4 separate regions of the Homo sapiens genome follow, and all the other regions are reported to be linked to region 4. The links are microRNA targets in miRTarBase. Many come from high-throughput screens and were not tested one by one. Region 4 holds a microRNA gene; each other region holds the end of a gene's coding sequence.

The links. Region 4 holds the annotated microRNA hsa-miR-6755-5p (UAGGGUAGACACUGACAACGUU, at 4,255-4,276, opposite strand). A microRNA usually pairs through its seed, bases 2 to 8, with sites in the 3' UTR of a target mRNA and lowers its output. Matches are read on the target gene's strand: a 7mer-m8 pairs with bases 2 to 8, a 7mer-A1 pairs with bases 2 to 7 and ends in A, and an 8mer does both.
Region 1: the mRNA of ATXN7L3B is a reported target of hsa-miR-6755-5p. Seed matches in the 3' UTR shown: 7mer-m8 at 2,916-2,922.
Region 2: the mRNA of MARCKSL1 is a reported target of hsa-miR-6755-5p. Seed matches in the 3' UTR shown: 7mer-A1 at 5,214-5,220.
Region 3: the mRNA of AIDA is a reported target of hsa-miR-6755-5p. Seed matches in the 3' UTR shown: 7mer-m8 at 1,767-1,773.

Annotation. Positions count from the first base shown.
Region 1 is chr12:74,536,859-74,544,248 of GRCh38, forward strand. It overlaps ATXN7L3B (ataxin 7 like 3B), which reads left to right and starts at 977. Exons shown (of 1, transcript NM_001136262.2): 1 at 977-7,390. The coding sequence starts at 1,255. The coding sequence ends at 1,548. RefSeq lists enhancers at 1,192-1,241, 1,911-2,000.
Region 2 is chr1:32,329,032-32,336,421 of GRCh38, forward strand. MARCKSL1 (MARCKS like 1) reads right to left here and starts at 7,202. Exons shown (of 2, transcript NM_023009.7): 1 at 6,916-7,202; 2 at 4,808-6,066. The coding sequence starts at 7,002. The coding sequence ends at 5,566. It overlaps HDAC1 (histone deacetylase 1), which reads left to right. Exons shown (of 14, transcript NM_004964.3): 7 at 37-129; 8 at 1,547-1,655; 9 at 1,737-1,877; 10 at 2,443-2,551; 11 at 2,645-2,775; 12 at 3,059-3,211; 13 at 3,670-3,718; 14 at 3,986-4,595. The coding sequence ends at 4,013. It overlaps LOC124903949 (a long non-coding RNA gene), which reads left to right and starts at 6,346. Exons shown (of 2, transcript XR_007065661.1): 1 at 6,346-6,473. RefSeq lists silencers at 1,053-1,253, 6,024-6,463, 6,604-6,683, 6,814-6,963, 6,984-7,390 and an enhancer at 6,855-7,390.
Region 3 is chr1:222,663,983-222,671,372 of GRCh38, reverse strand. AIDA (axin interactor, dorsalization associated) reads left to right here. Exons shown (of 10, transcript NM_022831.4): 9 at 1,123-1,240; 10 at 1,384-3,360. The coding sequence ends at 1,480. It overlaps MIA3 (MIA SH3 domain ER export factor 3), which reads right to left. Exons shown (of 28, transcript NM_198551.4): 27 at 7,225-7,375; 28 at 3,366-6,064. The coding sequence ends at 5,754. Among named protein-coding and RNA genes, the nearest start is that of AIDA, 45 kb to the left of the region's middle.
Region 4 is chr11:86,275,224-86,282,613 of GRCh38, reverse strand. MIR6755 (microRNA 6755) reads right to left here and starts at 4,281; the gene lies at 4,216-4,281. It overlaps EED (embryonic ectoderm development), which reads right to left. Exons shown (of 12, transcript NM_003797.5): 10 at 5,476-5,634; 11 at 4,623-4,696; 12 at 3,804-4,215. The coding sequence ends at 4,089.

The sequences.
Region 1 (7,390 bases), not on the chromosome of region 4:
ATTTTTAGTAGAGACGGGGTTTCACCATTTTTTAGCCGGGATGGTCTCGATCTCCTGACCTCGTGATCCGCCCGCCTCGGCCTCCCAAAGTGCTGGGATTACAGGCGTGAGCCACCGCGCCCGGCCAAATATAATTTAATCTTAACCATGAAATAAGAATTAGCTTTTTTTTCAGATGAGGAAACACTAAACTGTTAAATGTTGGCTTCAGGATTTAAACTTAGGTAGACTGGCTCCCGTTCTCACAAATCATGCATATAATTTTAGGAAAAATTTTATCTCCCAATATATTTAACATATTTCAGATTTCCTTCCTCTTTAAGTCAAAATGTACATCTAATTTTCTCTCTGAATTATTTTAGAGGTGTATGTTATCATCTCTTTATAGTCACATTGCCTTAATGATCTCATAAGTGAGATAGATGCCATGGGTTTATTTGATCAATATATACGAATTATGACTTTAGTACCAAGTTTCCAGTTTTTCCATTCAAAAAAAGACCGAAAGATAAACTATACTGTAATTTGTTTCCTTGCACCATCTAGTGGATTTAAATGACAACTGCAGCATTGCTATAAACGATTCACCAGTCAATCATGTAAGTCAAATTTTCAAACACCTCCGGAGAACTGTTCCTAAAATGATGTTTCGAATCACACCACAACAGTGCATATAATTATTAAAATTTTCCACTTTTCAGAGGATATCAATTAAGCGTGGCTGCTGAATTCATTAGCGAATGTTTAAATTTACAAATAAAGTAACATAAAATAGCATCCTCGCAATTTTTTAATAATCAGAGATAATGGAAGTCATACACTAAGTTCATCCTGTTCCTTTTCATAAACTCAAACGCTCTCAAAGCAGCAGCGCGTTGAGAAGCCCCAAGAGTCTGCGCGGAACCAGTGCGCAGGCGCTCTGAGGGGCGGAAGCGGAGAGGCGGGGCTAGGCCCGACAGGGGAGCGGAAGAGGCCCAGGAGGCTGGGTGAGGCGCTGAGACGGTTTGGCGGTGAGTCCTGGGCCAGGCGCAGCTGAAAGGCCCGCAACCCGGGAAACGTCAAAACAAACAGAAGGACTTGGGATTCCGGAGCAGTCGCCCCTATCGCTGCTCCTGCAGTTGCGGACGCCACCGACCCCGCCGCCGGAGGACTGGGCACTGAAAGGCCTCTAGGCCTAGGCGCGGCCCGCGGAGCCAGACGTGTTGCTGCCGTGAGTAAAACGAGCGCCCTCTCCGCACTCGTTTACAAATTAAAATGGAGGAAATTTCGTTGGCCAACCTGGATACTAACAAGCTAGAGGCCATCGCTCAGGAGATTTACGTAGACCTGATAGAGGATTCTTGTTTGGGATTCTGCTTTGAGGTGCACCGGGCAGTCAAGTGTGGCTACTTCTACCTGGAGTTCGCAGAGACTGGTAGCGTGAAGGATTTTGGCATTCAGCCAGTGGAAGACAAAGGAGCGTGCCGCCTCCCGCTTTGCTCCCTTCCCGGAGAACCTGGGAATGGGCCTGATCAGCAGCTGCAGCGCTCACCTCCGGAATTCCAGTAGCTGCAAAATGAGAGTCTGAAAGTGGCCAGGACAATAACATAGACTGGTCCTGTGGCTTCGAGGAGTAAGCTAAGTAGAAAAAAGTAGAAAAATCAGACAAAAGTTTTAATTCCCCCTTGAAGATCCTAGCATTTAAAAACCCAAAGTGGATAATTTAGGAATCCTTTTTTTAAAGTGTATTACCTGGAGCAAGCTCTGAAGCCCTGGGCAGGAGGAGCTGCACAGCCTGCGGGCCATGCAGTGCCTGTTGATCTCTAAACACACCAGGATGTGCGCAAGATCCTGTAGTGCCCCCAGTGCACAGGTGAGCAGTTGTGTGCCCAGCATATAAAATTTTTGGTTCCTCAGCCTTTCTGTCTGCCTGATGTCAAGGGCTTCTTGGACAGTTTGGACGTTACAGTTCGTCAGGCCGTGATCAGTGGCCTGCAGTGGGACTGCTCCTTTGATATCTGAACCTCTGTTATGGGCTTCTCTGAGACAAGTAAATGTCAGGTGCAAGATCTGGATACTAACAGTTTCAGTTTGGGAAATCCAAGAAAAAGAATTATCAAGTTTGATAGGGAAGCTCTGTAGCCTTGACTCCAGCAAGAAGAAAAGGTCAAAACCACGTGTTTCCCAAAAGTCCAGACTACAATGATTCAGCTGACTTGAGGACAAGGCCTAGCATTTGGCTGAGCAGAGCCCTCTTCCTTGCCCTCCAACCTGGTGGCATAGGCTTGGCAAATGGACAACTTGGTTGTCCAGACAGGTTGAGGATTCGGTTATGATCCCCTGGGGAGGTAGCAGGGACCTCTGCAACTATGCATGATTTCTCAAACTTCAAGATTCATGTCTGGATGTATTATGCTGTGGATATAAGTTTAGTAGGGCGGTCATTTCCTACTCTGAGTTACTGGTTACCTAGCCAGTCCATGGGTGTGACTTGGTCCTTAAGTCAGGTCACTATCTGCCTCCCACCCTGGGGGCAGGACTGAAGTATGGAAGAGCATCATGGCTGTGCAGGAGGCTGTGGTTTGAAAACTGAGCCCAGAGGGCACTTTCAGCTGCCCTCAATAATGTGAATGGATTAGTGCTAGGAGCCAAGGAGCAGGACTGGATTATCTCATCTGACTGTGTGCAGAATCCTGTTGAATGTCCCTGTTTTCTTTGGTTGGGCAGTCAGAGCTCTGCTATGGTGAACATCCAGACTGTCACCACTTTCTGTCTGCCGCTCGAAAGGGATAGTCCTTTCCACTCGGTCCCCTTTGGATCTTCTTGACAACAGGAGCAGTCCTTTTATTGTTAGAAGTCAGAGAAAGACCTCCAGAATCTCCTGACTTTAGGGAATGGTATAGGGGAAGATGGGAAGTAAGAGTCACATATCAAAACTACCCTCCACTTTATTCCCTGAGCGAGGGTTTATGAAGTATAAAGGGGTGGGAGCCCCGAGGTGAGCGGGAACGGTGCTGCTTTATTTGAAATGTTTTCTTACCTCATTCTGTGCCCCAGTAGGGGGTCCAGCCTCATCTGTCTGGCTTGGCCCTGTGTTCCTCCTGTCCCCTGCTCCACTGCCTATCTGGTGCCCCAGGTGCTGCTTGCCACTCCAGCTGTCACATTGAACAGTTTCAATTCAGCTCTTAATGCTCCTGCTTCCGAAGCCTGCCCAATTTCTTTTTTCTTGGCCTCTGTTTTTTTTTTTTCTTTCTTTTTCCCTTGTTTTTGTAGAAGACTCAGAGGAGAATCTTTCTTATGGCTCCCTCTGTTGAGATTGGAATTGGAAGAGAACTTAATTTTTTGTATTTAAAATGCAGTGTCATGCCTATAAGCATTTCTCCTATATAGGACTGCTTTGCTAGTGTGCCCTCTTGCTGTGTCTTACTTCATAAGGAGTTGTATCTTCCCACCTCCATTTCAATACTGCCGGTTAGGACCTAAGTAGAAGAGCAGTAAAGGCTGATTGACACACAGGGGGATGGAGTTGGTCCTTGTCCATTCTCTCACCCTTGCTGTGCATGTATCAATCCTTATCCCAGAAGGTACTATTTAGACTGTATAGACTGATTTAGATTACATACTTTAGAGGATTAAGGAAACCATAGAGTTTGGGCCTTGGAACTGTTACTGCCTTGTCCTAGAGTTGTCCTGATCAGGCTTGGGGCCTAGTTACAGATTAGTCTTAAAGAATTGCATTAACTTAAAAAAAATCAAACCTTGGCAAGAGCTAAAATAATTTGGAGATATCTTTGCCCTTGACTTGTAGACGACATCTAAGAGGATGAAGAAAGGAGAGTCTAAGTGAGACTCTGGCCTACTTCCTAACAATGTCTTGGAAGTGGGATGATGGTAAAGGAGAAAGGCCACAGTCCAATCCCTCTGCCTTCAGATAGGGAACTCAAATCCTGAAATTACTGTTTTCTTTCTGGCCTTTTCTCCTGGTTAGAGGAGGAAGCGGAAAGTAGTTTTGAGTAGTATTTTGTTCATATTACCCCCCTTTTGTTTTTTGTTTCTGGCCCCTCTACCAATAGGGCAGTAGCCTCCTGCCCTGGATGGGTATAAGGTGGGCTTGGTCCAACAGGTGCCCAGAGGGTACATACTCCTTTCTGGGGAGAGAATGCTCCCTACCATATAGTTGACAGTGGTTAGGAACTCTCCCTTTCCCTACCTACCTTCCTTTTAATAGCAGAATTCCTATTTTTCCCTTGATTATGTGTATTGATCACCCTGCAATCCTATTATGTATCTGAGTGTGTGTGTGTGTGTATGTGTGTGTTATGGGGGAAGGGGGGGGTTCTTTAAAATTTCTGTGGTTTGTGGCTTTTTCTTCCATACATTAGTTCCCACCATCGCATGCCCAGGGACCACTGCCTGGCATTATCGCATGCTGGGATCATCGGGGGAGGGTAGTGAAGCTCACCACTGTCCTTTGTTTTGGAGATTTTTATTTTTGCATAAGTAGTCCATCCTATACAGATAGCTGATTAACTGTATTCCCCTTTCCCCTATGGCTGCTGGTGTAAATAAACTGCATCTCCCCATTGGTAAACAGTAATAAAATTTTAAAAAATGACTACTTGGTCCTTGGACTCTGTATATTCATCTTTTAAAGCTGTATGTTTTCAGGCATTGACATAATGAGATAAACGTTGAAATGCTATTGAACCTTAATACTTCCTCCCTAACAGGAGTTTTATCAGAACAGAGAAACTGTCCAACCTTGTTTCTCAATTTGGCCTGCAAATTTAACTGTCTGTAGCATCCAGTGAAAGAGCCAAACCGTATACAATCATCCCTTTTCCATATGAGGTAAGAAGGTGGTAAGATAAATCCAGTCCTGTCACTAAAAGCCCACTGTGACAGATAGTTCCATTTGAATTGAACTCAATATATCTTAGTAAGTACATTTTACCATCATTTTAAGCTAATATCCTTGTTCTCAAAAGGTAAAGTGATTCACAGCAGACGATGGTTCTGCCTAATTTTTTTCTCAATACTTAAAAAATTACCTCAACACTTTAGATCTTTCATTTCATTTTTAATAGTAATTCTGAGGTTTTTCATCCCATTCCTAACCCAGAGTTTGAGCACTTCCCCTAGAAACTACTTAGTGATCCTGTGTCCTAATCAGTCTCTTGCTATGTGTTCTAATTTATTAAAGTTTCGTATTGGACATAATACTGAGATTAATAAAAATTACAGAAATGAGTCCAGAGAAGAATCTGACTCAATAGGATACCTCAGGGAAGCTTATAGATGTGTAACATGGTATTGAGTCTTCTCTTCTAGGAGCACTCGATGTACTTGTCACTGTCCAGTTTAAATAGGCCAGGGCCAACGTGGTGATTTGAGAAAACTTAAAAATTTGACGTGTGAAACCCATGATGTAACCATAGCAGGAGAAATTCTTCAAATGAAATTTCACCAAGATTGGGTATTTTGCCTTAAGTAAGATTTCTACTACTTTTATTAAAATTCACTGTAGGGATCTACTATCAATTAGCTTTCAAATACATCTGCAGCAAATACTTTTGGTTCCTGTTTTGTAGGTTTGGAGTTTAATATATTTAGTGCTAAGCTAATTAGTTTTCTAAAAAGATAATTGCAAGACCCCTGCTTTACCAAATACTTGACAATGGGACTTTGAAGGTTATTTCTTATGTTTTCTGACTAGTATGATCTTTAAAGAAAAAAAAAAACACATTGCATACCTTTTAACTACCAATGTTTAACCTCCTAGATTTAGCATTTAACTACAGCATGTACCATCAGGTCAAGAATCTGATAAATGATTGCTTGATGTTGACAAAGTGAAAGACAAAATGAAGTGTACTGAAGTAACTAAAAATTCAGGAAGAACTTTCTTGTGCACACATTAATAAGTAACATTGCCTTCTCTTAAGACCTATCTGAAGTGTTGTGAAGTTTTTCTTACAATTTTTTAAAAGAGATTTATGAAGAAACTATGTGCTAAAAGCACAACAATTATTAAATTTATTTTCATGTTGTTGTTTAATTATGGTTAACGAATTGCCAGTTTTCAAGTCAGCCAGAGATAATACCAGATTTCAGAAGTTTTACTCTGCTGTGAAGGATTACGAGCTCTCTGATTTTCATTTATGTTCCAAAAGATGCCCATAATGTTGCTTTGGAGGACAGCATTAGAAGTGATGTTCCTATTCAAAAAGGTTTTGTGGATAAACCTTAAACTCTTGGCGGTGTTTTTGTTTGTATTTGTTTTCCCATTTTTGAAAACATTTTCAATCATATTTCTTGAGACTCATTGGAAATATGTGAGCTAAAAAGGAAATACTAAATTGATTTTAGAGATGAAAAAAAAATCTTCAGCAGCAGTGACTTGCCCATAGTTCAAAAAGCAAAAATTTACAAGTGGTGGAAGCAAAAGTAGAATGCTGCTGTTGTGACTCCTAGGTCAGCGGTCTTTGTTGAAGCAATGGAGTAATAAATCAAACGACTAATTAAAAACAAAACAATGAAAAATCCATGATGCTTATGAACAACGTTAGGGCAATGAATTTGAAAACAAAAAAAGGGAAGTCTATTTTAAAATAGAACTCAAAAGTAACTCAAGGAATTGTTAATTTTTTAAGTAAATGAATACATCTATAACTTTTAAAACACCACACAATTAGAATTTTATAGAGAATACAGTAAATGAAACAACAACAACAAAAACAGGCAAAATAATACCAAAATAGATTTTTTTTTTAAATGAAGATGTTAGCAAACCAACTCCTTTAAAATAACAAAAGTAAACATCAACAAGTCAGTTTAATCACAGGATGGCAAGATTTCATCTCAAAATCATCACATTACCATTAGAGAAAATCCATGTGAAAATTTGAACTGATACTGAAAAATAGTTTGAAAAAATTCAATACGAATTATTGCCTAAAAAACAAAGACATTAACAATATAGAAACCAAAGCTCAAGAACTTGTACACACTGCAAAAGGGTATGTACCAAAAATCTACACCAGTTACTATACTTATTAATGAATACTTGGAAGCACTCCCTTTAAAAGCAGGAATGGAAGAAACAAAATTTTTACTGTTCTAAGATGATATTTACATGAACAATTTTATAGAATCTAGAAACAGTTGTTCTCAGATGACATCTACATCTACATGGATAATTTTATAGAATCTACAAACATACCATTGAAAGTAGTGAGAAAATTTAGCACAGTTACTGGATATAAGATCAATATCTAAAATCAGAATACCAACATTTAAAAAGTGTTATTAAATTTAGAATGTAATTCAACAAGTTATAACAGTCCTATGAAATAATATCACAAGAACTGTGTAAGATTTTATAAAGAAAATAATATTTTCTAATATGTTG
Region 2 (7,390 bases), not on the chromosome of region 4:
ATCCTTCAGTTTTACTTTAATGGCCTTTTTAATTAGGATATCGGGGCTGGCAAAGGCAAGTATTATGCTGTTAACTACCCGCTCCGAGACGGGATTGATGACGAGTCCTATGAGGCCATTTTCAAGCCGGTAAGTGGCTTTATCCACCCCTTGGGCTACAAACAGGGGATTGGTTGGCGGTGGAGGGGAGCAAAGCACCCCCACCATACCTCAGGAATCTCTCCTTACTAAAGCTGGTGGGGAGATAGAAGTGTTTGAACCCTGGATTGCTGTGTGGTCAGTTAGGGGAACAAACACCCATATTTATTGGTTCCTTCTATGGGTCAGGTCTTCTGCTGGATACAAAAATATCTAAGACATGATCTTTGCCCTCACGGACTATGGTGGGGAAGGCAGGCACATACCCAGTAGTCTATGATTAGTACTGTTTTTGTATCTCCATTTCTTTGGGCTGCTGGGAGATTATTGTGTTCTTTTGGTAGTGGTATGTCTCCTTGGTTTTTTGTGTTCCTCATTGCCTTACATTGATGTCTGCACATTAGAAGAAGTAGGGACTTACTCCAGTCTTTGCAGACTGGCTTTGTCTGGGAAAGCCCTTTGCCAGTCAGCCCATCCAGAGATTCTGGAAAGGCTGTGTGGCATGTTCCATGGGTAGGCTGGCCTAGTGCCTGTGTTTTTGAGGGATGATCAGAGGAATGAGAGACAAACTACTGCCTGGGCTGGCAGGAGGGTAGCCAGGGATGATTTCACAGAGGTGCTGATGTTTAAGCTGGACTTTGGAAAATGAGGAGGTGCCCATGTGAAGAAGGAGGTGATGGCAGTAAGGGTGGCATTTAGTAGAAGGAATGGCACTAGCAGAAGTGCAGAGGTGCCAGTGTGGCAGCATGTAGGCCAGTGTGGTGTATGGGAGGAGTGCTGAAGGAGGCGGTGGGAAGTGTATGCTGGGCTCAGTATTTCAAAGGGAGCCTTGAATGCCATGCCAAGGAGTTAAATCTTCACTTATAAACAGTAAGAAACTGCTTAACCTAATAAGGTCAGGTAGTCATTCAGCAAACACTGACTGCCCACTATGTGCCTAGTATTTAATAAGGGCTACAGAAGTGGGAGTTGTGGTCTCGGTCTCAGTAACGTTAGACTCTGCTTGTGAGAATAAGATAAACTAAAAGTGCTTGCTCATAATGTAAGGCTTCAAGTCTGTAAGACCGAATGAGTAGAGTAGATGCAGCTAAAGGTCAGGAAGGCTTCCTGGAGGAAGTGGCACTAGAGCTTGGGCAACAGAAGAGACTTAGGGAGTTGAGAGGGAGGCCATTCTAGGTTCAGTGTTACTAGAGTGTTAGAAGGGTCTTAGAGAACTTTTTAAATTGGAAAATTGAAATCCCAAGTGGGCAAGCAAGGGCTCCAGCCTAGCACTCCCTTTTCTCTCCCACATAGCATGAGGGAGAGTGGAAAGGTAGGAGTGGGTGGGAAAGTGTTGCACCCAGCCTTTCCACTCCAAACCTCGTATTGCTTTCTTGAGGTTGGTGGTGACCAGGATGTATCATTTTAGGTCATGTCCAAAGTAATGGAGATGTTCCAGCCTAGTGCGGTGGTCTTACAGTGTGGCTCAGACTCCCTATCTGGGGATCGGTTAGGTTGCTTCAATCTAACTATCAAAGGTGAGACCAGGTAGCACAAGGATGGGTGGGCGGGGTCCTGCTTGGTGCTCCTGTAACTCAGCACCCCTTCTCCCACCAAAGGACACGCCAAGTGTGTGGAATTTGTCAAGAGCTTTAACCTGCCTATGCTGATGCTGGGAGGCGGTGGTTACACCATTCGTAACGTTGCCCGGTGCTGGACATATGAGACAGCTGTGGCCCTGGATACGGAGATCCCTAATGGTAATAGCTGCAGGGCCAGGTTCGGCTGGGCTGGGTGGGAGCTGGAGCTCATCTGTCCTTAAGTTTATAACCCCTTCCCCGTTGGTCATATGACCGCTCCTCTTCTGATACTAGTCACTGAGTCTCCTGCCTGTCCTCTTGTGATCAGCAGACCATAACCATCACTTTTTCCCTAGTCCTTTTTAGCTCTCTCCCCTCTCCCTCCTGCTTTTGGTCTGGACAAAGTTCTCATTGGTAATTTACAGCTTTGGAATTTCTACTCTGTAGAGTAACTGGAGTAGCGAGTGAAGGGAGCGCTCATAATGAGCATGGCCTCAAGTGTCCTAAACCAGGGACATGGGCCTTCTCCTAGCGACATATACACCACTGGTACAGACATAGGAGAGTGATGTTAAAAAGATGGAAATCCCATAGGTACCCGTGTCTCACAGTGTCTTGGAGGCATTCTCCTCTGTTTGGATAAATAGGCCCAGAGAAACCTACAAATGCTTTAGGGTGCTTACGTGCAAATGGTTAGGGTGCGGTGGCCAGGTCTCTTGACGGTCTTCTCTCCTGCCCCAATCAGAGCTTCCATACAATGACTACTTTGAATACTTTGGACCAGATTTCAAGCTCCACATCAGTCCTTCCAATATGACTAACCAGAACACGAATGAGTACCTGGAGAAGATCAAGTGAGTATATCCTCCAGCCACCCCTTGGTTGAACATTCCTGACTTTGGTTTGTCCCTGACCAGAGCCCTGCTACTCTCTCCCATTGGCCACAGACAGCGACTGTTTGAGAACCTTAGAATGCTGCCGCACGCACCTGGGGTCCAAATGCAGGCGATTCCTGAGGACGCCATCCCTGAGGAGAGTGGCGATGAGGACGAAGACGACCCTGACAAGCGCATCTCGAGTGAGACCCAGACCTAGAGCCCTATGCCTTCCATTCAATAGGCAGCTCACACTTCCACCACCATTCCTGGCTGCACACTCCCTCCAAGCTCCCCACCTGTAGAGAAATCTGTTTTCGAGTTCCAGTGCCTGTAGGAACAGGTTAGGGAGCCCGAGTTCCTCCCTCTTCTGGTTCCCTTTCCCTTGGTGTCTCTTGGAGGACACGCAGGGAAGCACTGGGCATAGATGCTGAGCTAAATCAGCACCCGCCTGCCCTCTCACCCATGCTTCCCACTCCCTCCCAGTCTGCTCCTCTGACAAACGAATTGCCTGTGAGGAAGAGTTCTCCGATTCTGAAGAGGAGGGAGAGGGGGGCCGCAAGAACTCTTCCAACTTCAAAAAAGCCAAGAGAGTCAAAACAGAGGATGAAAAAGAGAAAGACCCAGAGGAGAAGAAAGGTGGGTTTGGGTTCAGCTGGGACTTGGGTCTCGAGCCTGAGAGGATGAATCTATGTAGGGCAGTGGGAGGAGGGAGTGACTCAGGCCCTGCCAGCTCCTGTGGGGCTCTTCCTCAGTTCCTTGAGCCTTTCAGTGGCTCCCAGAAGTGGCAGAGCCCACAAAACAATGAACCTCTACTGCCTGAGCACGGCTCTCACATACCACCCCAGCCCTTTTCCCAGCACTGCACCCCAGTTTCCCAGGGGGCTGCCTCCGCCCACCAGGTTCTGGCTGTAGCAGGCTGGGAAACCAGTCCAACCTGTTCTCAACAGGGCTCACTGGGAGGACCAGGGATGGGCTTTTCTCTCTTTATGTCCAGTGAGCTGTAGTGTTGGGGAAGGGGTCTCAGGGTAAATGAAGACCTCATGGGTCTTCCCAGAGGTGCTGCCCTTGGCCATCCCTGTACTCTTGTGTTCTAGAAGTCACCGAAGAGGAGAAAACCAAGGAGGAGAAGCCAGAAGCCAAAGGGTGAGGAAGGAGCTGCCTGTGGCCATCTCCCTGGCATTGGAGCACCAGCCCCTTTGTCCCACCACTCTGAGGAAAGGCACAGGGACAGCTGGTCCAGCTTACAAAGGCCTCTTTCAGGGACCAGTCTGTCCAGCTCTGCAGTTCTAGGCAGAGCTAGGAGCCCCAGCCCCCAGTAGTCACCTAGGATCCTGTGGAAGTCACTGTCTGCACTTTTGCCCTGAGGCTCTGGGCTGGGTCATCTCATGCCAGTCTCTGCTCTCTCCACAGGGTCAAGGAGGAGGTCAAGTTGGCCTGAATGGACCTCTCCAGCTCTGGCTTCCTGCTGAGTCCCTCACGTTTCTTCCCCAACCCCTCAGATTTTATATTTTCTATTTCTCTGTGTATTTATATAAAAATTTATTAAATATAAATATCCCCAGGGACAGAAACCAAGGCCCCGAGCTCAGGGCAGCTGTGCTGGGTGAGCTCTTCCAGGAGCCACCTTGCCACCCATTCTTCCCGTTCTTAACTTTGAACCATAAAGGGTGCCAGGTCTGGGTGAAAGGGATACTTTTATGCAACCATAAGACAAACTCCTGAAATGCCAAGTGCCTGCTTAGTAGCTTTGGAAAGGTGCCCTTATTGAACATTCTAGAAGGGGTGGCTGGGTCTTCAAGGATCTCCTGTTTTTTTCAGGCTCCTAAAGTAACATCAGCCATTTTTAGATTGGTTCTGTTTTCGTACCTTCCCACTGGCCTCAAGTGAGCCAAGAAACACTGCCTGCCCTCTGTCTGTCTTCTCCTAATTCTGCAGGTGGAGGTTGCTAGTCTAGTTTCCTTTTTGAGATACTATTTTCATTTTTGTGAGCCTCTTTGTAATAAAATGGTACATTTCTATATCCTCCTGAGCTTGTTTCCTATGTGTCCCTGGGTTGGTTTCAACTCTACTTCCCTGCCGTTCTGGTGTCCATGAGTATTGGGGCAACCCCCTGAACAAGAAAACCCCATAAACTTACCTGCCTGCCTTAACTCCTCCCTTGAGGTTTGAGGTAAACTACTTTCCACCAATCTTCTCACCCTACCCCCAGAAGACCACTCATTAAAGCACCACTAAAGGGACGACATTTATTCCTTTTCCAAATGTTACAGTAAAACCAGGTGGAAGAGAATGGTTTTAGCAGTTAGAAAAAAAAAAAAAGTACAAATCTGGGGTTTGGCCATTAAAAGTTATTTACAACAGTGGGAGAAAAAAAGACAAGAAGTTGTTTCACATTACAGACCTCCCCCCACCCCAAAGCCTAATACTTGCTTACCAAGTCAAAAAAGAGACACAGTTGATTCACAGGCTGGAGGTTTGAACTTGAGTAAGACATTTATAAAAACCTAGACGGGGCAGTGTCCTCCCCAGCCCAGGTGCCACTAGGCACAGCACAAGAGACTAAAAACAACAGGGGAAGGCTGGACACTCAAGGTTTGGGAGTATAAGCACCCCACTTCTGGCTCAGGGATTTGGGGAGTAGGGTAAACAAAACCTACTTGGAAAAGAATTGGGGAAGAAAACCAACAACTGCCTTATGCAGGGGTGGGGACAGGGAAGGAGGTAGGGCCAGGGACAGGAGCATTTCACATCACTAACCTAACTTGGGAAGCTGTAAGGGACCATCTTCAACTGGCCTTAAGAGGAGAACCAGATGGCTGATGGGAGAATCCACAGGAGGGAGAGGAGGAAAGGGAACGTGGCTGGGAGGAGGCAATAGCCCCTTCCTTTCTGGGCACAGGAAGGCAGCCAGGGCACCAGGTCCAGGCAGTGACCTCACAAGGACAGCACAGTTTTTGCAGCTTAGAGATCACCCACCTGCCCCTACCTAGCTACTCATTCTGCTCAGCGCTGGCTGGTGTAGGGCCACTCTCCGGCCCCGAGGGAGTGGATGGCTCTGTAGCCTGGGGCCCTGCCTCTTCTTCTGAGGCTGCACTAGCCTCTGCCCCCTTGGCCTGGGGTTCCTGGCTCTCAGGGGTGGCTGCGGCCTTCCCTTCCTGAGCAGTGCCCTCGTCGCTGCAGGCACCGATCTCCCCCTGCTCCTGCTCTTCCTCTGTGGGTGAGGAGGCAGAAGAATCACCCCCACCCTCCTTCCGATTTCTCTTGAAGGACAGGCCGCTCAATTTGAAAGGCTTCTTGAAAGAGAATTTCTTCTTCTTCTTGGGGGTCTCCTTGGGGGGGACCTCCCCCTTGGCCTCAGCACCCTGGCTAGGGGGTGCTGGCTCGATGGCATCGCCAGTGGCCCCGGCTGCCTCATCTGTTCCGTTCACAGGGGGCGACTCCCCTTCACCCTTGGGGGATAAGTCTCCATTGCTTTTCACGTGGCCATTCTCCTGCAGGGCAGAGGGAATAGCAATGAGGGCAGGGGCTCCCCCTCCCCCAGCCCGCTTCTGATCCCTTCTAGAGGAAGGGGTCCTCGATTCGATTCTACTGCAACCCGAAAGTCTGGCTTCAGCCTCACCCACACCCAGGATCCCGTCAAACACCTCCCTCTCGCCCCTCACGGGCGCGCGGGGAGCGAGCGCGCAGAGGGCGCGACCGGCAGGAGGCGCTGGGGTCCCGTGGCCCCCACCCCCGTCCCCCGGGGCGCGCTCTCTATTCCGCGCGGAACCGCTCCGGATCTGCTGTGCGGATCCCGGGCAGGCGGGCGAGCCGCTCTAGGCGACATTGGGCGGGAAGCCGCCCCGGGGCGCTGTCTCTCTGCACCTGGACGGCCTATTTTCCCAGCCTCCCGCTTTGTGTAAGTGGCCCCCACCCACCCCAGGCTCTCCCGCATCTCGGCTCCCCCTTAAAAAAAAAAAGACCGTGGGCCACCGAGGTCGGGTCGGCGGGTGGAGTGCGCTCCCCGCCGGGCCCCAGCTCCGCGGCCCCTGGGCGCCCCCTTGGCGTGGCCCAGCAGCGCCTTTGTTCCCCGCGCGGCACTCGGGGCGGCCGGGGGGCAGCGCCGGGGACCGGGGCCGCGAACAAAGAAGGCGGCAGGGCCCGGCCGGCGCCCCCTCCCCGCCCCTCCCCTCGCTTCGCCCGCGGGGGCTGCGGCGCCGAGAACAAAGGGACCGGGCGGGGGAGGGGGCGCCGCGTGTCCCGGGCCGGACAAAGCGCGCGGCCCCGGCCCCGGCCCCGGGCCCTAGAAGGGGCGAGGTGCGAGAGGAGGGGCTGGGGCCGGCCGGGCCAAGCGTACCCACCTGGCCGTTGGCCTTCGCGGGGGAAGCGCCTGCTGCCTCCTCGGCGGTCACGTCGCCCCGGGGAGCCTTGGAGCTCTGGCTGCCCATGATGGGGGTCTGCTGGGGGGCGCTTGGAGCCGCCCCGGGCTCGCGCCGCAGGGGATAGTACGGCGGGGTCGGCCCGGCCGGCGGAGGGGTGGGGCTGGCGCCCGAGGGGGAGGGGTGCCGGGGGAAGCCGAGCTGCACCTCCGCTCCGCGGCCGACCCGCTAGCTGCGCCCGCCGCCGCTCCGCTCCGCGCCAGAATGCCGCCCGCCGCCCGCCGAGCTGCCTATATATAAGCGCCCGGAGCTCGGGGCGGGGCCGGACATTTAAATGCGCGCCCAATCGAGGGGCGGAGGCGGGGTTGGCTCGCAGGCCCCACTTGCGCAGCAGGCGACGCTGGCGGTCGGGTACCCCCCACCCCACCCGAATCCCAGGGGCAGGTAGAGTCCGGTG
Region 3 (7,390 bases), not on the chromosome of region 4:
TTTAGAAATTCATTTTTGTTGGCCACATTGATGAGGCAACTTATTTCTCCATTTTTAGCTTTTTTCTGCAGGATTGGGGGAAGAGTTTATCTGTTGGACTTTGGGGACATAGGACCGTCTAAATTTCTTATTTTTTTCTTTTTTTGAGACAGAGTCTCACTTTGTCACACAGGCTGGGGCACAGTGGCATGATCATGGCTCACTGCAGCCTCAATCTCCCTGGGCTCAGGCAGTCCTACCAACTCAGCCTCCCGAGTAGCTGGGAGTACAGGCACGTGCCACCGAGCCTGGCTATTTTTAAAATTTTTTTTGTAGAGGTGGGGTCTTACCACCCCCTTGTTGCCCAGGCTGGTCTCAAACTCCTGGGCTCAAGTGATCTGCCCATCTCTGCCTCCCAAAGTGCTGGGATTACAGGCATGAGCCACCGCACCCGGCCAGAACTGTCTAAATTTCTCATTATCACTTGCTCATTGGAGGAGAGTGGCAGAATAAATAGATTTGCTCTTTGAACCTTTGTCTTCTACAGCACTGTCTTGACACAAACATGCAATTCCAGGAAAAACATCACAGCAGTGCTTTGAATACTGAAAAAGGTGTTAAGGAAACAGATAACATTTTCCAGCTGAGCCAGCATGTGATTTATGTTGTTTGAATTCCAAAATACCCCCAAGATTGAATTTTTGAGTTTTTGTTTTGGGGTAAGGGAAACAATTCGAGCTTAAATTTTTTTAGGAACTCTTTTAAATGCATTTTCTACCTAATGAGTCTCTATGTGTATTGAAGTATCTTCTCTGTTCTTCTGTGGCATTTCATATTTTATAGCAGCTTATGATTCTACCTGTGTACATAACTGTTATACATTCTTGAGGCAGTCTAGCTCAAGAAGTTTTGCTATAGTTTGTAGAATTGGATGATAAGGAGAAATGTCACTCTACTCAGATACAGAAGAGTTCGGGGTGACAACCATAGTAAGTTACTGTCAAATCATTGAGACTGGCACAAGTTGTTTTGTCAAATTATGCCAGCTGTAGCTGTTCATATGCTTCTGGTGATCAAAGAAAATTAATTGACACACAAGAAATGTGCTATCTGTGGTTTATGTGGCTTGTTTTAATTCCTTAGGTGCAGCTATCTTCTTTGAATTCAAACACTACAAGCCTAAAAAAAGGTTTACCAGCACCAAGTGTTTTGCTTTCATGGAGATGGATGAAATTAAACCTGGGCCAATTGTAATAGAACTGTAAGTGATGTGCATATAGAATTAGTACTAATTTGATGGTGACTAGTATATCTTTCTTCTGAATCCCCCATATCCAGTATTTAACCTTGAAGAGTTCAGTTATCAATGTATTTTAAACAATGGTCTTTCTGTTGTGATTACAGATACAAGAAACCCACTGACTTTAAAAGAAAGAAATTGCAATTATTGACCAAGAAACCACTTTATCTTCATCTACATCAAACTTTGCACAAGGAATGATCCTGACATGATGAACCTGGAACTTCTGTGAATTTTACCACTCAGTAGAAACCATCATAGCTCTGTGTAGCATATTCACCCTTCAACAGGCAGGAAGCAAGCCGTACCCAGACCAGTAGGCCGGACGGAGTCCAATGCAAAGCTGTACCACAGAATTCAGAGTCCAGCACATCACACTGACGTATAGGACTCCTTGGGATACAGGTTTATTGTAGATTTTGAAACATGTTTTTACTTTTCTATTAATTGTGCAATTAATAGTCTATTTTCTAATTTACCACTACTCCTACCCTGCTTCCTGGAACAATACTGTTGTGGGTAGGATGTGCTCATCTTCAGACTTAATACAGCAATAAGAATGTGCTAGAGTTTACACATCTGTTCACTTTTGCTCCAATATGCTCTTTTGACTTAACGTCAAGCTTTGGGTTGATGTGGGTAGGGTAGTGTCAAACTGCTTTGAGAGGAATGGGACCAGTTCTGCTGCCTAAGAAGGTCTGTCTGGATGTTTATAGGCAGCACCTCTGAAGTGGCCTAAATTCACCCTGATCTGATAGTTTTCCTGCTTAGAAAGTGTGCCTTGGCCAGATCAGTATCCCACATGGGAGTGTTCCCTAGGTTGTAGCTGTGATTGTTTCCAGATGACCAGATTGTTTTTCTGAAAATGAGCATATTTTTAGTCATGTCGATTAGCTGTTCTTCTACATCACATTGTTACTCTTTCTGATGATGATTCTAGGGTTAACATTGGAACCATCTCAAAATAATTACAAAGTTTTAGATGGGTTTACAATGTCTTCTAAACAATGTAATCTAAAAATAATTGAGTCAGATGCTAACGAGATACTGCAGGCATAACTGCTGTTTTTCTGACAACTGATTGTGAAACCTTAAAACCTGCATACCTCTTCTTACAGTGAGGAGTATGCAAAATCTGGAAAGATATTCTATTTTTTTTATATAGGTAGATAGGATCGCCATTTATTTCCTATTTAGATATACTGACATTCATCCATATGAAAATATGCAGGTCATTAGCTTACTATAATTTACTTTTGACTTAATGGGGCATAAATAAAACTTTCATAGTACACATGAGGTGGATATTTGATACACAGAACATTTGCGGTGGGCTTTCTGTGGGTTAGATGTAAAGCCCACATATTTTAATATTCACTATTTTAAATGAGCAATGCATGAGGGGAATGCAGTGTCAGTACCTGGCCTATTTTTAAACTAGTGTAATCACCCTAGTCATACCATTCAGTATGTTTGCTTTTTAAAATAAGTAACCACAACTAAGTTGTTGTAGCCCTTGCACTTCAAGAGATCTAGTCTTTACTTTCAGTTGTCTGTTAGGTCCATTCTGTTTACTAGACGGATGTTAATAAAAACTATGCGAGCCTGAATGAATTCTCAGCCAAATTTAGTCTTGTCTCTCATCTTGATTGGATTAATTCCAAATTCTAAAATGATTCAGTCCACAATAGCTCTAGGGGATGAAGAATTTGCCTTACTTTGCCCAGTTCCTAAGACTGTGAGTTGTCAAATCCCTAGACTGTAAGCTCTTCAAGGAGCAAGAGGCGCATTTTCTCCGTGTCATGTAATTTTTCTAAGGTGCTTGGCAGCACTCTGTACCCTGTGGAGTACTCAGTACCTTTTGTTTGATGTTGCTGACAAGACCTGAAAAAAAATCCCTTAAAAAAAAAACCCATTAAAGTGTAGCAAAACCGATGTATTATTTTTTCTCTTTTCTCATAAACCATAAGATATGTATATCAAAATGATAATTTATATGAAGCATCTGCTATCCTTCACATAAGTATAGTTTATATGAACTACAAATACCTTTCATCAACATTAAAGAAGCTTAAATTGAACACTGTGTGATTAACTTAACTTTAATTCAGACCTGAATATAACGAGAAAATGAGTGATTATCTTGAAGTTGACACAGAATATACCACATCCCACGAATTACTTAAATTTACTTTCCAATGAAAAAAATCAGCCATTGGCGATATAACTACAACAACTATGGCAGAAATGCTTTCAGGCTGAATATTGCTGCTTCATAAATAAGACAATTTTAGCAACTAAATCCAGACACAATTAGTTGGAGATGACTTCCAAAATAGATGAAACTTTAGAGATGGAAAAGTGATTTGGCTGAGGGATGATACTCCCTATGCCATCTGCATATTGGCACCCTGCTTTGGGGTTTGCTGCAGAAATGGTGCAATCAGATGGATGTGAGGAAGCAGTTATGGACTGGCTCACAACTTCTCAGAGAAGCTACACTGGAATCTTTACAGCTTACCAGTTTCTCAATTATGTCAGATACAGAATAATCACCAAAAAAGGCTTTAGAGGGGAAAAATACTCTAATATTTTGAATTTTAAAAATAGATTTAATTTACCTTTCCTACTTACCTTCCTAGATGGCATAATCTACACTTAAATGACATTTAAAATTAGAAATTATATTAACTTCAGCATTGTTTTGTGTCCTAAAGAGATATTGACAGGTAAATTCAAAAGTTGTATTTGTGACTTAATCTTATTTTTACATGGCTAAAAGTGGCCTATGCTCTTCTGTGGAGTTTTCCTCTTAATTTCTTCTATTCTTGATATTAAACGGGAGGACATATAGATTGAATTCTCTTTTCCTGAAGAATTTTTATATTCCTTATGAACTTTGACAGAGTTGTCTTCTTTCAAAGGTCCTTATCTTTCTAAACTATCTATCTTCAGTTGTTTAGTATAAAGAGAGAAAATTGTTTCACATTGAAGCTTTTGCTCCTTTTTACAAGGTATTCTTAATCGATTAAATATCACAACAGTGACAAGACATACACTAGGTTTCAAAAATATTACATCATAGGACTTCAAAGAATGGAAGAATATAGCCTAGCAGCAAACAAAAGTATCAGCCTTTTATGATTTTAGTTTTAGTGTGGATCTGAAACTCCTTAAAAGGAGTGCTATTATTACTGTAATTAAAATGTCTGAAGTTCGTTCTTAGAAACGTTGTAGAGTATTTAAAGAAACATTGTTTTAAAGACAGTGTAGTAATGGATAAGACTTTAAGTATGGTGCAATTCCAGATGGTTAGTTACTGATTTTTAAATAAAAACACCAACGTTTAAATATTAATTAATATTAATTTTGGAATAATATCTGTCGCCCCCATTTCCCCCTAAAACAGAACTGATTTCAACCCTTGGTTGCTGACCTAGGGCATGTTATAACCCTCACAGTCCTAAATCATTCTTTCTCATGGCATTATACTCTTCCAATCTTTTTATTATATTCCTCAAAAATCAGTGGCAAGGAATGGGAAAGATAGATAAGGGACTGTACATTTTAAAATTTTTAAAGATTTCTATACTTTTATGGCCATGACACATCATTTTCATTTTTCTGTTGTGCACCCTTTTTCTACAGGAATGGTAAAAACAATGGAACATCAGGTCAAACAACTCTTGCTACTAATGTAAACTCACTCTCAGAAAACCATTCTCAAATAGACAATGAGGATCGTAAAGAAAGCATGTGAATGCTATACAAGTGGGAAATAAACTTCTTTGAAATAAAAAGACGTCACTTGTAGAGTTCACAGGTGACGGAGGAGCAGCCGGAAGTGTGCCACCAGCCACCATCTTCAGTTCTGGGAGCCTGAGTTTACATGTTCCCCAAATGGCACAAGCCTCATAACAGTCCAATGAGTCAACAGACACTTGGGAAATATTAATAAACAAATTTTTATGAGCTATTACTACAAAGAACTTCAGCAAGAGGGGAGATAGTTTAGTGATCTTTTAGTAAACATTTTTAGCGTAACAGTCTTTGTGACCAGATAGTTTAAAAAAACGCTTATAAACACCATTGCTCCGTATTCAGCTGGTGTACACTAAAAATAGGATAATGGAAATACATGTTCTTAAAGCATTTCCACAGGAAATGTTCATATTTTTCATGACATTCTAAATCATTTTGCAATTACATATGCTACATTAGCTAAAACACAGGTATTCTTTATTGCACATTTCAAAGTTGTAAGGACGCTCTAGCTTAAAAGGTGATTTTTATTTAGGGAAGAAATGACATTTTTGAATTGTTTGGCTCAAAAATGCACACTGCCAAGGCAGCTTAGTTCTAACAACAAACCTTTTAAAATAAACTTTTGGATTTTGAAGCCAATGAAATCCTTTACTGTAATGGATAATGCACAGTACACTTTCTTTCCAATGAAACCTCAGAGGTCATAGTTTTATGGGCTCTGTTTTAAAGCCTGTGAACAGTCCTGGCTAGTGCTCTGAGAGGCAGGTGGAGGCTCATCTCTAGAGCCTGACGGCAGTAAGTCTCTTACAGCAGGTGGTGGTGGGTATTCCTGGGGACCATGGGTTGGGGGTGGTAATCGGGTACCAGGAATAAAGTACTCTCTTGGGCCAAGTGAACCTAAAGGTCTAAATGGTGCGTGTCCAGGTAAAAATCCCCGAGGGTGGAGAGGCAGGTCCCGTCTTCCTGGTGGAACGCCTGGTGCAAATTCTCTTAAGCCTAGTGGTGGACGCATACCAGGGCCTGGAAAACAAAAATTATTTCCAGTAAATTCCTAGGAACGTATTTAAATTAAGATAATGCCAGGTATGTTAATATAGTCTGTCATCCTTTTTTTTTTTTTTTTTTTTTTTTGGCGGCAGGGTCTTGCCTGTCACATGGGCTGGAGTGTAATGAGTGATCATGGCTCACTGCAGCCTCAATCTCCCGGACTCAATCAATCCTCCCACCTCAGACTCCCCAGTAGCTGGGACTACAGGTGCACGCCACCACTCCCAGCTAATTTTTGGATTTTTTGTAGAGATGGGGGTTTCACCATGTTGCCCAGGCTGGTCTCAAACTCCTAGGCTCAAGGGATCCACCTGCCTCAGCCTCGTCTAATGAATGCTGGGATTCATAAAGTGCTGGGATTACAGGCGTGAGCCACTGTGCCTGGCCTGCCATCTTTATCTGAAAAAGAGAGATAGATTTGTACTTGGAAGTACTATATACCATACCAAGAAGACAGACTAAATATGGCTTCATTGCAATAAAAATTTTGATAAATTCCATTAACTACTGTGTATCAGTTAAAAATTTATGCAGTAGCTCAAGATGTACCTAATAAATGCCATAAAAATTAAGGTGCTTGCCCTGCTGGAAAAGGCTTTCCAGCTCCATCTAATTAAATTCAGCAGCATTCATTAGATAGCTGTTAAATTCTACCTTCTCTTTCATATCTCCCTTCTTTGTATTCCCAAGGTGAGGGTTGAGGGTTTTGTCTTTCCTTAATATTCTGTGACCTACTGCTTATGCTTCCATTATGGGTGATTAGAAGCTTTATGTTGTAGAATGTGTATATTTGTGACCTACAGGACATCTTAGTTAGGGGATGTATTTTATCTACCTTGCTATCCATTGCAGAGCCTAGTACACAGCCACAGATGTTCAATGTGATGAATATTTCTGGCTTTTTATAAATAGCCCCTTTCCTTGTTCTATTAGAGACAACTATTGCCCATCTAATCACAGGAGATTATGTAGCACCCTTTGTGTCTGAAGAAACTTGGGGAAAAGTTACGGTGTACTCAATCAGCTTCACTGCTGCATTGCAAAGCCCCGCAATTGCAGTTGTTTTAGCAAGGGATAGATGGAGAAGATGAATGTGCTTTACAAGTCAATTACTACTGTTCAGATCATCTTACCAAAGGGTGGAGGAAGTGGCCGAGGCCCAAAAGGTCCGCAGAGCTGAGGTGGTGGTCCATATCGAATGGGTGGTGGTACAGGGCCTCCCATGGGGGTGCTCATGAGAGGGACTCCTGGGAAAGGAGGGGGCCCTTTTGGAGCCATATTAACCTGCAGAGTAGAAAC
Region 4 (7,390 bases):
TGTAATTTGGTACAAACTTAATAAGAAAGAAATATCCTATCTAATTATAAAATGAGCCTGAGAGTTACACAAAGACTTGTGTACTGGCCTGTTATTCAAAATACTACCTATAATAGCAAAAATCTGGAAGAAATGAACATGTCCAACAACAAGGCATTAAATAGATAATGGTACATTCATGGAAATGTATTAAAAGATATGCAAGCAGAATAATCTGTTAAGAATTACTGGGAATCTGAAAATGCAGCATATAAACAATATATTCAGACAATCACAATTCTTTAAACTTACACACACAAAATACATCCCATCACTAAAAGCAATTATTTCTGTGTACAAAAATTAAAGGTAGTTTTTACTTTTTTCTTTATACTTCTAAATAAACTGCATATATAATTTAGAAATTACTTTTTAAAGGGTGAGCATGGTATTGATATTTTGTTTAAAGTCTTTCTTGGAAATATAGAGTAAATTTTTACAGTTAAAATAAAGTCTGGGATGTGCTTCGAAACAATCTGGTGTAGATGTATAGATAAATCAAGATTGGCTATGTATTGATAATTGTTGAAGCTTGACTTGGTTCATAGTATTCACTACTCTCTTCACTCTTCTATATGTTTGAAACTTTCAAGTATAAAGTTAAGAAAAACAACCCTGTCTTGTCTTTTCGGAAACATAATACTCAACATATCAAAGCTGGTTTTATCTTTCCTAAGACACTGTGTAAGAAATATACTGGACAATTATTGGGTCAAAAAAGAAACTACAAGAGAAAATGAAAGATGTCTTGAAAGCCTGGCACAGTGATGCATGCCTACAGTCGTAGCTACTTGGGAAGCTGGGGCAGGAATGGATCACTTGGACCCAGGAGTTCGAGGGTGCAGTGACAGCTATAACTGCACCTGCGAATAGCCACTGAACTCTAAGCCTGAACAACATAGCAAGACCCCGACTCTAGAAACATATATAAAGATACCTTGAGACAAATGAAAATGGAAACACATGTCAAAACTTATGGGATGCAGCAAAAACAGTTTTAAGAGGGAAGTTTATAGCATTAAATGCCTGCATTAAAAAAGATCGCAAACCAACAACCTAAACCTCAACACCTCAAGGAACTAGAAAAAGAACAAACTAAACCTCAAGTTAGTGGAAGGAAATAACAAAGATCAGAGCAGAAATAAATGAAATAGAAAATAAAAAAATGAAAAAACAAAAAGCTAAACAAAATTGACAAACCCTTATAGCAACACTTAATAAGAAAAAAAGGACTCAAATCAGAAATGAAAGAGGAAATATTACAACTGTTAATACACCAAGTCTCTCATCAAAGAAAAGCCCAAGACGGCACTTTTCTGTTTCTATTAAACATTTAAAGAATTAATACCAATCCTCACATTCTTCCCAAAAATGAAGAGCAAGGAATACTTCCAAACTCATCTTACGAGGACAGTATTAGCCTGATACCAAAGCCAGACCAAGGACACTAGCAGAAACAATATCCCTGATGAACGTAAATACAAAAACACTCAACAAAATAATAGCAAACCATCATCTTCAGCAATACATTAAAAGAATCATCCACCATGACCATGTGGGATTTATCCCTGGGATGCAAGGATGTTTGAACATATGCACATTAATAAATGTGATTCACCATATTACCAGAATGAAGGACAAAAACTGTACATTATCACAATAGAGGCAGAAAAAGCATTTGACAAAATTCAACACCCTTTCATGATAACTCCCAACAAAATAGGTATAGAAGGAATGAATGTTCCTCAACACAATAAAGGCCATGTGTGACATGCCAATAACTAACATCATACTCATTAGTGAAAAGTTGGAGGCTTTTCCTTTAAGATGAGGAACAAAGTGAAGGATATATTAGCCCAATTTGCTCATTCTACATTGTATACATGTATGAAGCATCACATTGTACCCTATAAATATACACAATGGTCAATTAAAGACATATATATAATTTCTTCTTGGTTTCTATTTCCTGATACAACTTCTAAGACCCTTGAGAATATAATTTCTTCTTGATTTCCATTTCCTGATATAACTTCTAAGAACCTTGAGATCACTTGAGTGAAAATAATGTGTTTTTGTAGGCTAATGAGATAACTGGTGACTGGGGCCTCTGGATAACATCCATTAGGAAAAGAGATGTTACTTCCTTAGTATTTCAGGGAAAGGAGAGAGGGCAAAAATAGAGTATAAACATGTGGCTGATAACTGGCCTGTGAGTTCTGACTCCTGGATCTTTCATTATCTGCACTAACTTTAACACTCGATATTCTAGCCTGGTCAACATGATAAAACCCCGCCTCTACTAAAAATACAAAAATTAGCTGGGCATCGTGGCACACACCTGTAATCCAAGCTACCTGGGAGGGTGAGGCACGAGAATCACTTGAGCCTGGGAGACAGAGGTTGCAGTGAGACGTCTGAGACCGCACCACTGCACTCCAGACTGGGCAACAGAGTGAGACTGTCTCCAAAAAAATTAAAAAACAAACCTCAAGAATGGAGTAGTGAATAATACATTTCTACGGACCAAAAGGAAAGATGATATTCTCACCCAGTTAATCATGCAACAGGAAGGATTTCATTATGTGGTATTTTGCAACAAGAACCTAGGCAATCTCATTTTGCTAAAAGGATATGACAGTATTCCTTGTCTTTTGTGATGCTGTACGTAAGAATTTACTTGCTATAAAGGTTTACTTCTTGAAGTTCCTATTAAAATTTCTAAAAAACAATTGAAGCGTTCATTGGACCAAGACAGTAAAAGGCAGTAAGTTTTCCTGTTTATTCAGACTTAAGCATTATACTATTATCAGAGAAGTAAACTGTGCTTCAGAGATAGCTCAAAAAGGGGCAGTATCAAACACTGTACAAGATATCAAAACTAAACTTTAAAAATATACATATTTATAGAAACAAGTTCATGAATCTTTTTAAAAACCTGACAAAATTCAGTCTTTTGTATTTTTCTCTGGCTCACCTCATTTCACCTCCAACCTTAGCTTTATGATCATTCAGGCTTTCTTCACTCCTCTGCTTCAAGTTAACCCCTCCACATGTGATCTTGGTCTTCACTCTTTAGGGAATTTTTGCCCACAAATAAATGCAGTGTGCCTTATGTTGGAGACAAAATAACCAACTATTCCCAACCTTATGATCTCAATCTACTTAATCCCTCTTAGCCAGTAACATCCTTCTAGAAAAGGGGCAACAACTCACTACATGGACATACTTGCCATCTCTTTCATGATCCAACCCACTGCATTTAAACTTCTATATCCTCTCCTCCTTTGCCCTAATGATATCTCCTCTAAGGTTACCAATGGCCTAGTTCCAAATCTAATGGCAGTAATATTTTTTAAACTATAAAGAAAGGTTACAGTTAAACATTATCAGAGGTTCTAACTCTGTAGAATTTTAAATATTACTTATGAAACTATTACATAAGAAATCATTAAAAAATATAAAACCATAGGAACTATAATCTCCAATAATTATAAACACAGAATACATTTAGGGCTTATTATATGTCAAATACTGTTCTAACTGTCTCACACATAACGAATCATTTGATCCTCACAATAACCCCAAGGCAAGTATTATTATCCCTGTTTTATACACAAGGAACCAAGCATTGAGAAGTTGTTTATCCAAGGTCACGTAGTAGGAGAGCCAAGATTTGAATTCACTTTAGTTCTAGAGCCTATACTTAATCTCTGTATTACAAAACTTTCTCTGGTTAAGAGAACTACAAAAAACAACCATTATAAAAAGATAAGGCATAATTTTATTACTTTTAACTTTTTTTCACCACAATGAAAGTAACTAAACACACAGCTTTACAAAAATAAATTTTTATTAAAAGCAGTAGAGTCTGAGCAGGAAGACAGTACAAAGAATGTAAACAATGTAAACATCACTACATTCAGCTCAGCCTGATTGAATGCTGAAAGACAACTCTAAATGCTCTACGTGCCCTTACTAGCAAGATACATTAATTCTATTTTACACAGACAACAAACACACTCTAATTTTGATTAGGCAAAAGTATTTTATCGAAGTCGATCCCAGCGCCAAATACTGGCATCATCACAAACAGCTATAAGAATGCTGCTATCCCTGCTAAAACTGGTTTGTCGAATAGCAGCACCACATTTATGATGAGTCAGTGTTGTACATCTAGGGAAAAAACATGACAACAGGTTAAAGACCACACATAACGTTGTCAGTGTCTACCCTAAAACAGCGGATTAGAAAATAAGCAGATGTTCCAAGTCATACGAAAAGCACTTAAAACCAGAATATACTTCACTAAGAGCTCAGTCTCAAATTTTATAAAATTTAGATATATTTTAAGTTCAACAAGCACTACATAATTTGTATAAAAACAAGAAATGACTTGTCACCAAGGTACTTAGGAAAAACAAAAATTATTGGAATAAAAAAGAATAACTTTAACTCTGAAAACAGTAAATGTTAAAAATGACTTAAGGATGGCACTGCAAATATAAATGATCTTCTCTACATTGGCATACAAGTGTGGAGAAAAAGCCTGAAATTTTGAACAGAAATTTCTAAATACTTACTTGGCTTTATGAGGATCTTCTACTTCTAAATCCCAAACATAAAGTTTGCCAACTTGATTGCCCAATGCAAGCATCTGTATAAACATATTTTTAAAAACATCAAATTAATAAAATTACCAGGTTCTAAAGCATTGGAGGAATCCTCAGACAGCTTTCTTGTTTCAGAAAAAGCTCAGTTCCAGCCTCTGTGCTCTTGGCTATTTCTTTGGGTCTTATACTCCTGATTCGTAAATATGAATAAGAGCAATTAATACATCACAAGTGTCTTGAGCAAGTAAGAAGGCATTGTGCAAATTTATGAAGGGCCTTACAAATTTACATTGTTAGCATGGTACTTACTTTTTCTTCTGCCTTCAAGAAATACAGCAAATGCTGTGGAAAGCCTTCCAAACTTTTCTTACAGAAATAAATACCCAAGTAATTTGTTACCAGAAAATCCTAACAATAGATTTATTTAAATTTTTAGGTAACTAGTATTTTATCTGTCTTCTATCCTGATTTTTCTCTAGGAAACAGTTACATAGGTAGACTGACAATCTAATTACTAAAACATTAAGTCTTAGTAATGTTATGATAATGTTTATGTTATGGAACATAAACACCTAATTTCCACCATTGATACCTAACTGCCAACTTAATTTAAAGTAAGCACTGCAGATCATATGCAGAGCCACAAAAGTAGAATGAATAACACCAAAGTATTTGATGAATGACATCAAAGGGCAAAGTAATCAATACAAAACATCAGGGTAGATTTGTAAAGGAAAAAGAACATGGACACAACAGAAAAAGCTAGAATTACAATGGTCTTTCATAAGTCAGATCATTTCAAAATGTAAAAGTATGTTGATACCTTTTGCCAGAAATCCATAGAAAACCTCATGTACCAAATGTCACACTGGCTGTAATCAAATCGCCCAAGAATAGTCACATTAGATTCACTGGGTTTAATTTTATCTATATCATCTTCCATCTTGCCAGGTTTCCAGCACACAATGGCATTTTCACAAGACTAAAACAGAGAGAGAAATGAGAAAAAGAAATGTTAATGAGGAACTGAATCTTACAAAGTAAAAACAAGGCTTTTCTATTGTTTTGGAATTCACAGCTCTTAGAACCTGGTTAATCCATCTATCAAGTACAGTGATGTACATTCATTTATATTTACAGTCAATGACCATACTTAAGGACAAGAAATCTGATTATCAACAGAATTCGATAATACAAAAGAATCACATTGTCTGAAATATTCATTTTGGAAGTCAACATTTCTCTTTCAAGTTAAACCAAGTTCAGCTCTAGATACTCTGACACCCAGAGACTTTAAGTGTTTTATAGCACAGGTCAATTACAAACACACAGAATTAGAATACATGGCTTTTCAGAATCCGGCATTAATCTGGCTCTTGCTTACTTCACTAGTTTCATCTTTCCCCATGCAGTCTCCCATTTCGCTTCTAATCACAGGTGGTTTCCTTTACCTTATTAACTATTATTCCTTCATCCAGTATCTGTGCCACACAGTAGGTACTCAACAGGTATCTTAGGAAAGTTGATGAACTCACATAAATAGCCTTAGAATTCAGTTTATAAATAGGGCAATCGAAGGCAAGTAAAGCAGTTGTTTAACATCAAGACACTCATATGGGGATAGGATTGAAATAGGCTTCAAACTTATACTTTTCCTATCCTATAAAATCAAATTTGTATGCACATACCTAAGCAGTAAGTGGTAAAGAATACAATGAGAAAAAATTGCAAAACTGTGGGCACTATTCATATTACTGTCTAGGTCAGTGGTTTGCCCACGAAGGGACATTTGACAATGTGTCTGTGCTCTAATGGGTAGAGGCCAAAGATGCTACTAAATATCTTATAATGCACAGGAAACCCCCTACAAAAAAAAGAATTATCTGGCCTAAACTAAATAGCACCAGGATTCAGAAATCCTCATGTAAGTGAACAGTGCCCCTAGAGTTTTACTGGACAGCCTACATAATATAGTGACAGGTGGCAGCCCTGTGGGGTTCACAGGCATTTAAATAATTTAATAGTATGGCCACTTGAAGATTAGGGAGGAGACAACACATTTTTCTTCTCTACCTTTTTTATTTAGACTTTTTAAATCCTAGTGCTATATGACATCTATTATTCAAGTTTTTAACTGTAAAGGACCTTAGAAACCACCCAGTGTGATGACTCTTGGCTAAATGCAAAATTGGATCAATAGTCTGTGGAGTTTTCTCAAAAGACTCATCTCAGCCCCTACTGATTCAGAGTCTCTCAGCCCCTACTGATTCAGAGTCTCTAAGAGAAAGGCCAAAGCAGAAGAACTGTAAAATAGCTCTTCAAGTGCTTCTTACTAACTGCACCGGTGAAGAATTTTTAAGTACTGGAGTCCCTGGATGGAAAAACTAAAGCAAAGTGAGGTAAAAAGATGTTGCCAGAGCTAATGGATGGCTGCACTTCAAAATCATCTAAGAGCTTTTTAGAACTACCAATTCCCAGGGCCTTGCGCCAGATTTAGAATTTCTGAAGGTGAGGTCTAGGAAATCTATTTTTCTAACATTCTCCTAGTGAGTCCGATGCAGAGCCAGATTTGAGACCACCAATATATTTCAGTTCAGCCTACCACCTAAAATTCAGAAATCCTTTCCAGAGATCTAAGTTCTAAGAGCAGAAATTTTAAAAAGCTAATAGCTTTTTACTTCTGCTGGTGGAACAATGTAGCAGATGTGTTTTTTCCTGTAAGTCCACTTAAAAGTCGG